Linked DNA regions of Homo sapiens. The protein of the gene in region 2 binds, or shares a complex with, the protein of the main gene of each other region. Each region holds a gene or a part of one and is shown on either strand. Other genes may lie near its edges.

What was found.
Region 1: the proteins of RWDD3 (region 2) and UBE2I are in contact, whole or in part, in a crystal structure (PDB 4Y1L), measured with the Homo sapiens proteins. Residues at the interface, in NP_056300.3 of Homo sapiens: Glu3, Pro4, Glu7, Ser10, Val11, Ala13, Ala14, Ile15, Cys17, Pro98, His101, Glu102, Leu105; in NP_003336.1 of Homo sapiens: Leu6, Ser7, Ala10, Gln11, Arg13, Lys14, Arg17, Lys30, Gly34, Thr35, Met36, Leu38.

What each region holds. Positions count from the first base shown.
Region 1 is NC_000016.10:1,322,925-1,326,735, reverse strand, and holds part of UBE2I (SUMO-conjugating enzyme UBC9), read right to left. Parts: exon of another isoform or gene 2,007-3,811; coding exon 1,943-2,006; 3' UTR 1-1,942. UniProt on the Homo sapiens protein: Accepts the ubiquitin-like proteins SUMO1, SUMO2, SUMO3, SUMO4 and SUMO1P1/SUMO5 from the UBLE1A-UBLE1B E1 complex and catalyzes their covalent attachment to other proteins with the help of an E3 ligase such as RANBP2, CBX4 and ZNF451.
Region 2 is NC_000001.11:95,240,575-95,244,385, reverse strand, and holds part of RWDD3 (RWD domain-containing protein 3), read right to left. Parts: intron 176-3,811; coding exon 1-175. Other genes in the region: TLCD4-RWDD3 (TMEM56-RWDD3 protein), read right to left, coding at 136-175. UniProt on the Homo sapiens protein: Enhancer of SUMO conjugation.

The DNA.
Region 1 (3,811 bases), on a different chromosome or scaffold from region 2:
TATGTATTAACCATATACATGTGTAACTATTACTAAATGTAGTTCAGTCATTACAAAATAAGACATTCTGGGAGCGGGCTACAAATATTCAAACCAGCTGAATTCCCCAGGTAAGGCCCCGTGTTATAAACAAACCACAAACATCAGACGTCAGACCGAGAGCTCAGTGACTGCAGGGTGCGTAGCCGGAAAAGCCAACAAGGCACTGGCACCGCAGAGTCGCTGGAGGGGTGGTGGGGGGCACTGCCGGCTCGGGGGGCCTTTGGAAGTCACCTCTAACTTCGATTCCCAGCCAACAGCGGCTGGAGTCCCACACGGACCTGGAGGGTGCCGAGCTCCCCTTCCCAGGGCCCTGGACCGCCCTCCCTGCATTCTTTGCTCCTTTGGGGAGCCCCGCCCTGCCCTCTTGGGACCCTGCACTTGGGCCACGGGGACCCAGCTCCAGCCACCGGGGGGTGCCAGGGCAGCAGGGCCAGCTCCAGCCCCAAGGCTTGAAACGAAACTGAGGAGGGCCAAGCTCGCTAGGATGGGGAGACTGGGTTGGGAGCCAGAGGTTGGAGGGCTGGGAGCACCGGGCTGTGTCCCCCAGGGCTTCCCATCTCTGTCCACTGTGCCTTCCTGCTGGGAGGTGACCGGCACCCAACTTCCCAGCCAGGCCACTTCCTGCAGTGGCTCAGGCAGCCCCAAGAGGCCTGGCCGGCCCAACCTTTGCAGAGGGCTCAGCGTCAGGACGGCTGCTGAGGCGCACAGCCTCCCCAGGACAGACCACACTCAGGTGGCCTCAGGACGAAGAATTCCAGACACAGGCTGCCCAGGGCCCTCTACCTGGCGCTAAGGGTCGGGGAAGCCCTGGAGGGCCACGGCTGTGGGCTCTCCCAGAAAAAGCACCTGGCGTTTGCCACGGGTGGTAGCAAGGCTGCCTCCTGAGGACACAAGGGACAGACACCTGAGGTGGCACCCTATGCACAGCGCAGCTCCATCCCTGTGACCTGGCCACTGAAGAGGGGAACCCCCGCCAGCAGGCTGCCCGGATAGGAGTCCTCAGGCAGCCCCCAGCCCTGGTCTGGACCTGGCCTTGTGGCCCCCAAGACAGCTGGCACCGGTGCAGTTGCCAGGGTCTCGATGCCAATCCCGACCTATGCAGATCTTAGCTGCCCAGCGCTCTACAGCCCGCAGATGCGGGGAGCACAGAAACCTCAGCAGCACTTTGTACACAGCCCTGTTTACAAAGATCCAGGGCAAGACAGAGCCTCACAGCCTGCGTGCATCCGAAGCAGATGGAGAGCCTGGTCCTGGCCCGCGGTGGGGCTGCAGGTGGGTGGGGAGGGCCGGGCACTGGGAGGCCGCCTCCTCTCACTTTCAATGATAATAATGCAACCAAAACCTTTATATAAACAGTTTATTTACTCTAAACAGCAACACAGACAAAACGCCATATAAACACAAAGGAAGTGGCGCAGAACCGAGATGCTGACCTGGGGTCTGAGGCTCAAAAGCAGCACAGCCCAGGTTCTAGAAGGTTCTAGAGAGGAGCGGCAGGAGGGAGGGTGCATTTCCATACAGCCAGCTGAGGCCAAGTGCAGCTCTGCACGGTGAGAAGCATGCCTGCATCCCAGAGCGAGGAACTCGCCCCTGGGGGACTTACCCAAGTATAAAAGTTTATAATTTTACAGCAGTTGAAATACTGACATCAATATTAAAATAAAAGCGAGTTTTACATAACAATCAAAAATACAAAAGACCGAAGGAAGAGACCCTGTATGGAAACGGGCAATTCAGCGAATCGAGACCGCACACCCGCGGCGGCAATGGAAGATGGCGCCCGCCCAACCCCCCCAGGTGACTAGTCATTGTATGGAGCAACTTTAGATTTGCAAAAATGTTGTAAACAAGTTCTTGCCAAACCAATCCCTTCCTTTTGACGATGCCACAAGGTCGCTGCTTATGAGGGCGCAAACTTCTTGGCTTGTGCTCGGACCCTTTTCTCGTACTCCACTCTGTTTTGGCTGAGGAGGTCAAAAGAGAAGAGACGTGTTAGAGGGCTGAGCTGCCTGGCCCTCACGCTCGCCCCGGAGCCAGCTGGGCAGACCAGGCTGCAGGATGGGACCTCCTGGGGGAGGGCAGTGTGGAGCTCGTCATAGTAACAGAAGCAGAAGCCCGGAGAAGCAGGGAGGCCTGCGTGGTGGGGAGCCCATGCTGGCTCTGACGTGGCTGAGACTGTCCCGTGGTCTGACGGGGGCAGAAGGGCAGGGAGGAGAGGAACCCACGCTGGGTGAACGTGGTGTTCAAGGGGGACAGAGGGGTCCCGCAGGGCTGCGAGGAGGGCTCAGGCCCAGAGGGCCCACGCCAGGGCCTGCAACATCGTTGCCGATGCCAAGTCTGGTCCTAACTAGTAATCAGCAGCTTCTCTTTTCTGTAGGTCTGGGGACAGTCCTAATAAACTGAAAACACTGACTGCTTGCCACTGTTTTTGTTAATTCCCAAAAATAGACACCAATTTCTGGAGGGTTTTTCCATGAGGCTCTCAGCCGCAGGGGCAAAGGTGTGGGAAGGCAGGCCTGGTTGAGAAGGCGTTGTGCCCGAGCTGGGCAGTGCAGGGGCATCAGCGAACAGGTCTGGAGCTGGGTAGAGTGAGGCTCAGCCTGCAAGCAGCTGCCCAGGAGAGTGGCATGGCACACACTGCCCGGGCAAAACAGGTGGGCGGGAGGGCGGCCGAGGCTGCACCTAGGGGCTGATGGGTCACAGGGTGCAGTGTGACCCTGAGGATGGGGGAACACCATGACATTTATGGAGGTGGCTCCTGGGGTCGCAGTCCTGCCAGTCTCGCCAGGATTGGACCTGGTCTGAGACACTGAGCCTCACTCTGCATGGTGGAACAGCCCAGGACGGCAGCAGCGCCGGTGCCACCCCCACCCACGCCAAGGGCCTGGACCGCAGCCCAGACCCCAGCGCCCTCCTTGGGCCACCAGCCGGCCCCAGGGCAGAGCAGCTCAGCTGGGTGGGCGTGGAAGGAACCAGAGGCGGTGGCTACACGTCCCAGCTCTTCCTTGACCAAGCAGAGGCCCCGAGAAAAGGCACCTGCCAGGGCAGGAACACGGTCCAAGGCCTCCAGGAAACCCAGGAAAAACGATCTGAAACCCGCACACATGCTTCACAAAGGGTGCTTTTCAAGCGGATGTGTGTAGGAGAAAGAACGTTTGTTTACGTGCACGCAAGTGTACAGTGCAGCCCAGCAGGCACCAAGCCCAGGAGACGCTGGGGAGAGTCACACGGGGCGGGGGACTGCAACCCTGCCCAGCCCACGCCGCAGATGGGAGCCACAGCCCAGCTCTGGAGATGGTCGGCAAATGGGGTGCAGGCCAGACAGAGCTCACGCCCACACCATGCTGGGGATGGCAGACCATCTAAGGGCTAGGCAGGAAAACATTTGCCTTTTGTTTTGTTTTTTTGAGACAGAGTCTGGCTCTGTTGCCCAGGCTGGAGTGCAGTGGCGTGATCTCGGCTCACTGTAAGCTCCGCCTCCCAGGTTCAAGCCATTCTCCTGCCTCAGCCTCCCGAGTAGCTGGGGTTACAGGTGTGCGCCACCACGCCCGGCTAATTTTTTTTATTTTTACTAGAGATGGGGTTTCACCGTGTTAGCCAGGATGGTCTCAATCTCCTGACCTCGTGATCTGCCCACCTTGGCCTCCCAAAGTGCTGGGATTACAGGCGTGAGCCACCGCGCCCGGCATGCTTTTTTTTTTTTTTTTGAGACAGGGTCTCACTTTGTCACCCAGGCTGCAATCTTGGCTCACTGCAGCATCAACCACCT
Region 2 (3,811 bases):
AAATTCTCTTTCACAGTCACACACTGGGCCCTGGTCAACTGTTCAGAGTTAATCGAGATACCAGGTAGACATGAAGGATAATTGACTGGCAAATGGAACACCAATTCCAGAGGTATATCCACATCCATAAATCCTTCAGCTTTTGTGTGAATTCTGAACACGGTCCCATCTGTCTCTGGAAGGCATCCAAAAATAATCATTAGCTGTACATTATTCAATTTGAATGGAACACCAGCAAGTTCAAACTTTTGTCTCAAATGTCAATTTATTTTTCATGAGAAAACTCTGAGCTATTTTATGAAGGGACACGTAATACTAGGAAAGCTATGATTTACAAATTATTTCCTTCAACCATACACATGTATTCATGTATTCACACACACCAGCACCCAGGATTTAACTGGCATTTACACTTGCTATCACCCCATTTTTATTAAGTTACCAGAAAGGTTTTTCATCAGATAATTTTTTTTCTAGCCAGATTTAGTTGATAATTCTGAAAATCCCTAATAAACTCATATGAGCTTTCAAAGATACAATACCACATATATACAAAATCAGTAATTAACTTAAAAATTGTACACTAAATCCAACGAAAGTCATTTTATGAGAAGTCCAAGTCAAAGCAAGCAATGGAATCCCCTGTGGTTGTAGGGTTGCAGAGAAACTGATGACTGCATGTGACATAGTAACTGCCTGGAATGTTCTCTTCTTATTTCACATATATTAGTATCAGTATAATATGAAGGTGGCAAGATGAACTGAAATTGAGTGGACATCAATTCTGCCTCTTCCAGCTCCTAAGAAGGAAGGGGAAAGCACACATAGGATATCATATGAAATCCTCTGCTCTCTTTCAGATTTGCTTGGCTTCACCCTCTGATGTGTTCCACACCACTTCATGCCACTTTTCAAAAAGATGATAAAACGTCAGGCTGAGTAGAACAGAACTGGGTGCAAATAAATCTCTCTGAAGCTAACTTGCCTCTCTCTACCCCTACTTCCCTCTGCACGTGCCTTTGCTTTATTCCCCTGCATGAGAGAAGCAGTCAAATCTTTCCCATTTTCATACCTGGATTGCTGCTCAACAGCCTCAACAACTGAGACCTGAATGTATCCCCATTTTAAAGAACCTAACAGAACATTAAAATTGTTTCCTGAGCCTTCTGATTCCACATATATAAAAGCCATTGCTACAGATATTGATTCATACAGGACCAGACACATCTGTTACAGAGTTTTTCTTTCATACACTCTTCAGTACCAGCTGCAAGGAACGACTATTTTAGGACATCATCTGGAAACATAGACAGTTAACCGTTAAGAAGACCATATTAAAATGATACAATTTATATGTGTATTTCATAAGAAGAATTTTCCAAATCTAACTTTGTACATTCCTCCAAAACCCATCATGTTTCTCAAAACCCTTCTTCTTCTATCTAGTTACTTATTCTTTTTTTTTTTGAGACACAATCTCACTCTGTCGCCCAGGCTGGAGTGCAGTGGCATGATCTCGGCTCACTGCAACCTCCGCCTGCCAGGTTCAAGCAATTCTCCTGCCTCAGCCTCCCGAGTAGCTGGGATTACAGTCATATGCCACCATGCCCAGCTAATTTTTGTATTTTTAGTAGAGACAGGGTTTCTCCATGTTAGCCAGGCTGGTCTCAAACTCCTGACCTCGGGTGAACCACCCGCCTTGGCCTCCCAAAGTGCTGGGATTACAGGCATGAGCCACCGCACCCGGCCTAACTACTTACCCTTTTAAAAAAAAATACTTTATTGTTAAAGTAGGCTGCCTATGTTAAAATAGTACATTTCAATATGTAAAACAGACATTACAAATAGAACTGCAGACAACACACAACCATTTAGGCTGAATAAACTTTCTAATAATCATCTAGGGAGTTGACATTCTCTCTTCAAGAAGGAGGAGAACTTTTAAAGATCTTCAATCATTCATCATTGAACAAGCATTCACTGAACACCTACTAAGCTCAAGGCACTGTACTAGTCTCTGAGGGAAAATGACAGGTAAGACACAGATCCCATCATATTGACTCAATCCAGTGTTTCAGAACACGAGAGCAGGGATATATCCCAAGTGATCTTCCTTGACTTCTCTTCTACACCTAAACATTTCTTTATTCATAAATATGCGTACATATACATGTACATATAATTTATATAAACATAAATGTCTGTGTTGGTAGATAATTCTCCAGGGATCTGGTGTGGGAGTTCAGTCAGGGTGGTGGGAAAAACTGCAGAGGAAAAATTGTAAAGATAGTTATAGGAAATAGTCACAAACCTTCTTAGAAGGCTGGGGGGTGGTGGTGCATAGCTTCAGTAAAAGATTTGGCTGAAAGCAGCCGAATCCTCTTTACCTCGAGTTGATAGCAAAAGAGCAAATAACAAGGGAATGTGGGAGAGTTTACCTAAATAGCTTGTTTACTCATGTGGTCCTAAGAGCAACCTTTGATTATCTGTGGGTGCATGACTGCTCTCCCCTGGGGGGGGTGGGGAGGGGTGGCAATGTTAATTACCTTCTAGTGGTGTTTACTCATGACCCTTGTCATTTAATCTGTACTAAATAAATGTGAACTTCACCGGCTTATCATGGCCTACACTGCAGATTCAGGAGCAGAACCCCTTTAGCCACACTGACAAGCAAAATGTCTGTGTCAGTGTACGTCTCTCATCCATCACTAGGTCAGTGTCTGCGGGTCGGATGCCCACAATCTGGCATTTCTGAATGCCTTCTGAGCAAAGGGCATTAATATCTTTGTTCAAGGACTTTTGCATAACCGACAGCCTTGGAAGCTAGAGTTTATCCCTCCAGGTCAGGGGGCAGATTTGTTTCCTAAGCAATATAAGGTAACATATTCCTTCAGGACAAAGATTGAGCAGGATCACTAGCAGCTCCCTCATAATACCGGAGGGTTCCTAAGCTCACTGCCCCTCAGCTATAACAAAGACCCACTGAGTGCATTGTATGCACCTCAGCCTACCTCTACATCACCCCATTGAACTTGGGGGACAAGGAGAATCAATGTGAACATGAAGCTAATGCTGCCTGCTGTGCATTAAGCAGTAACTGTCCAAATCCATCTGGGTTCACTGTCTCCTTACTGGCTGAATCCATGGAAGTGTGTTAGTGACCAAGGAACTGCAGTTGTCATTGCTGCCTAGGAACTGCTGGGCCACTTGATTATACTTTTTTTTTTAATCATCTTGCTCTTTTTCACTGTTTTATCTGAGAAAGAAGTGTCTTCCTCCCTTCCACAGGAAACTCTATCACTGGTCTTGTGCTTGTTTTTTGTTTTTGTTTGCTTTTTGAGATTGAGTCTCACTCTGTCACCCATGCTAGAGTGCAGCAGGGTGATCATGGCTCACTGCAGTGTTCAGGCTGGTCTCAAACTCTTGACCTCAGGTGATCCACCCGCCTCAGCCTCCCAAAGTGCTGGGATTACAGGTGTAAGCCACCACACCTAGCCTAGGCATAAAATCTTAAAGCTGCCTTCAACTTTTTTTTTTCCCTCCTTCTTTCATACTTAGCATTCAACTGCCAAATCCCACAAGTCCTCCAGAATTTCTCTCCCTTCCACCCTCCTAATTCAGGCCTTTCTCTGGCTTCTGCAATAGTGGTCTCCTCGCCGCCTGCCTCTCCCCACACCAAATTATCCCAATACCACTCTCCCAGAATGAAATGAATTACAAATTCCTCCATGCAACGCCTAGGGCCAGCCTACCACTCTGACTTCCTCTCTCCTCACTTTTTGCTTCAACTACCCATTTTATACCATGTCCT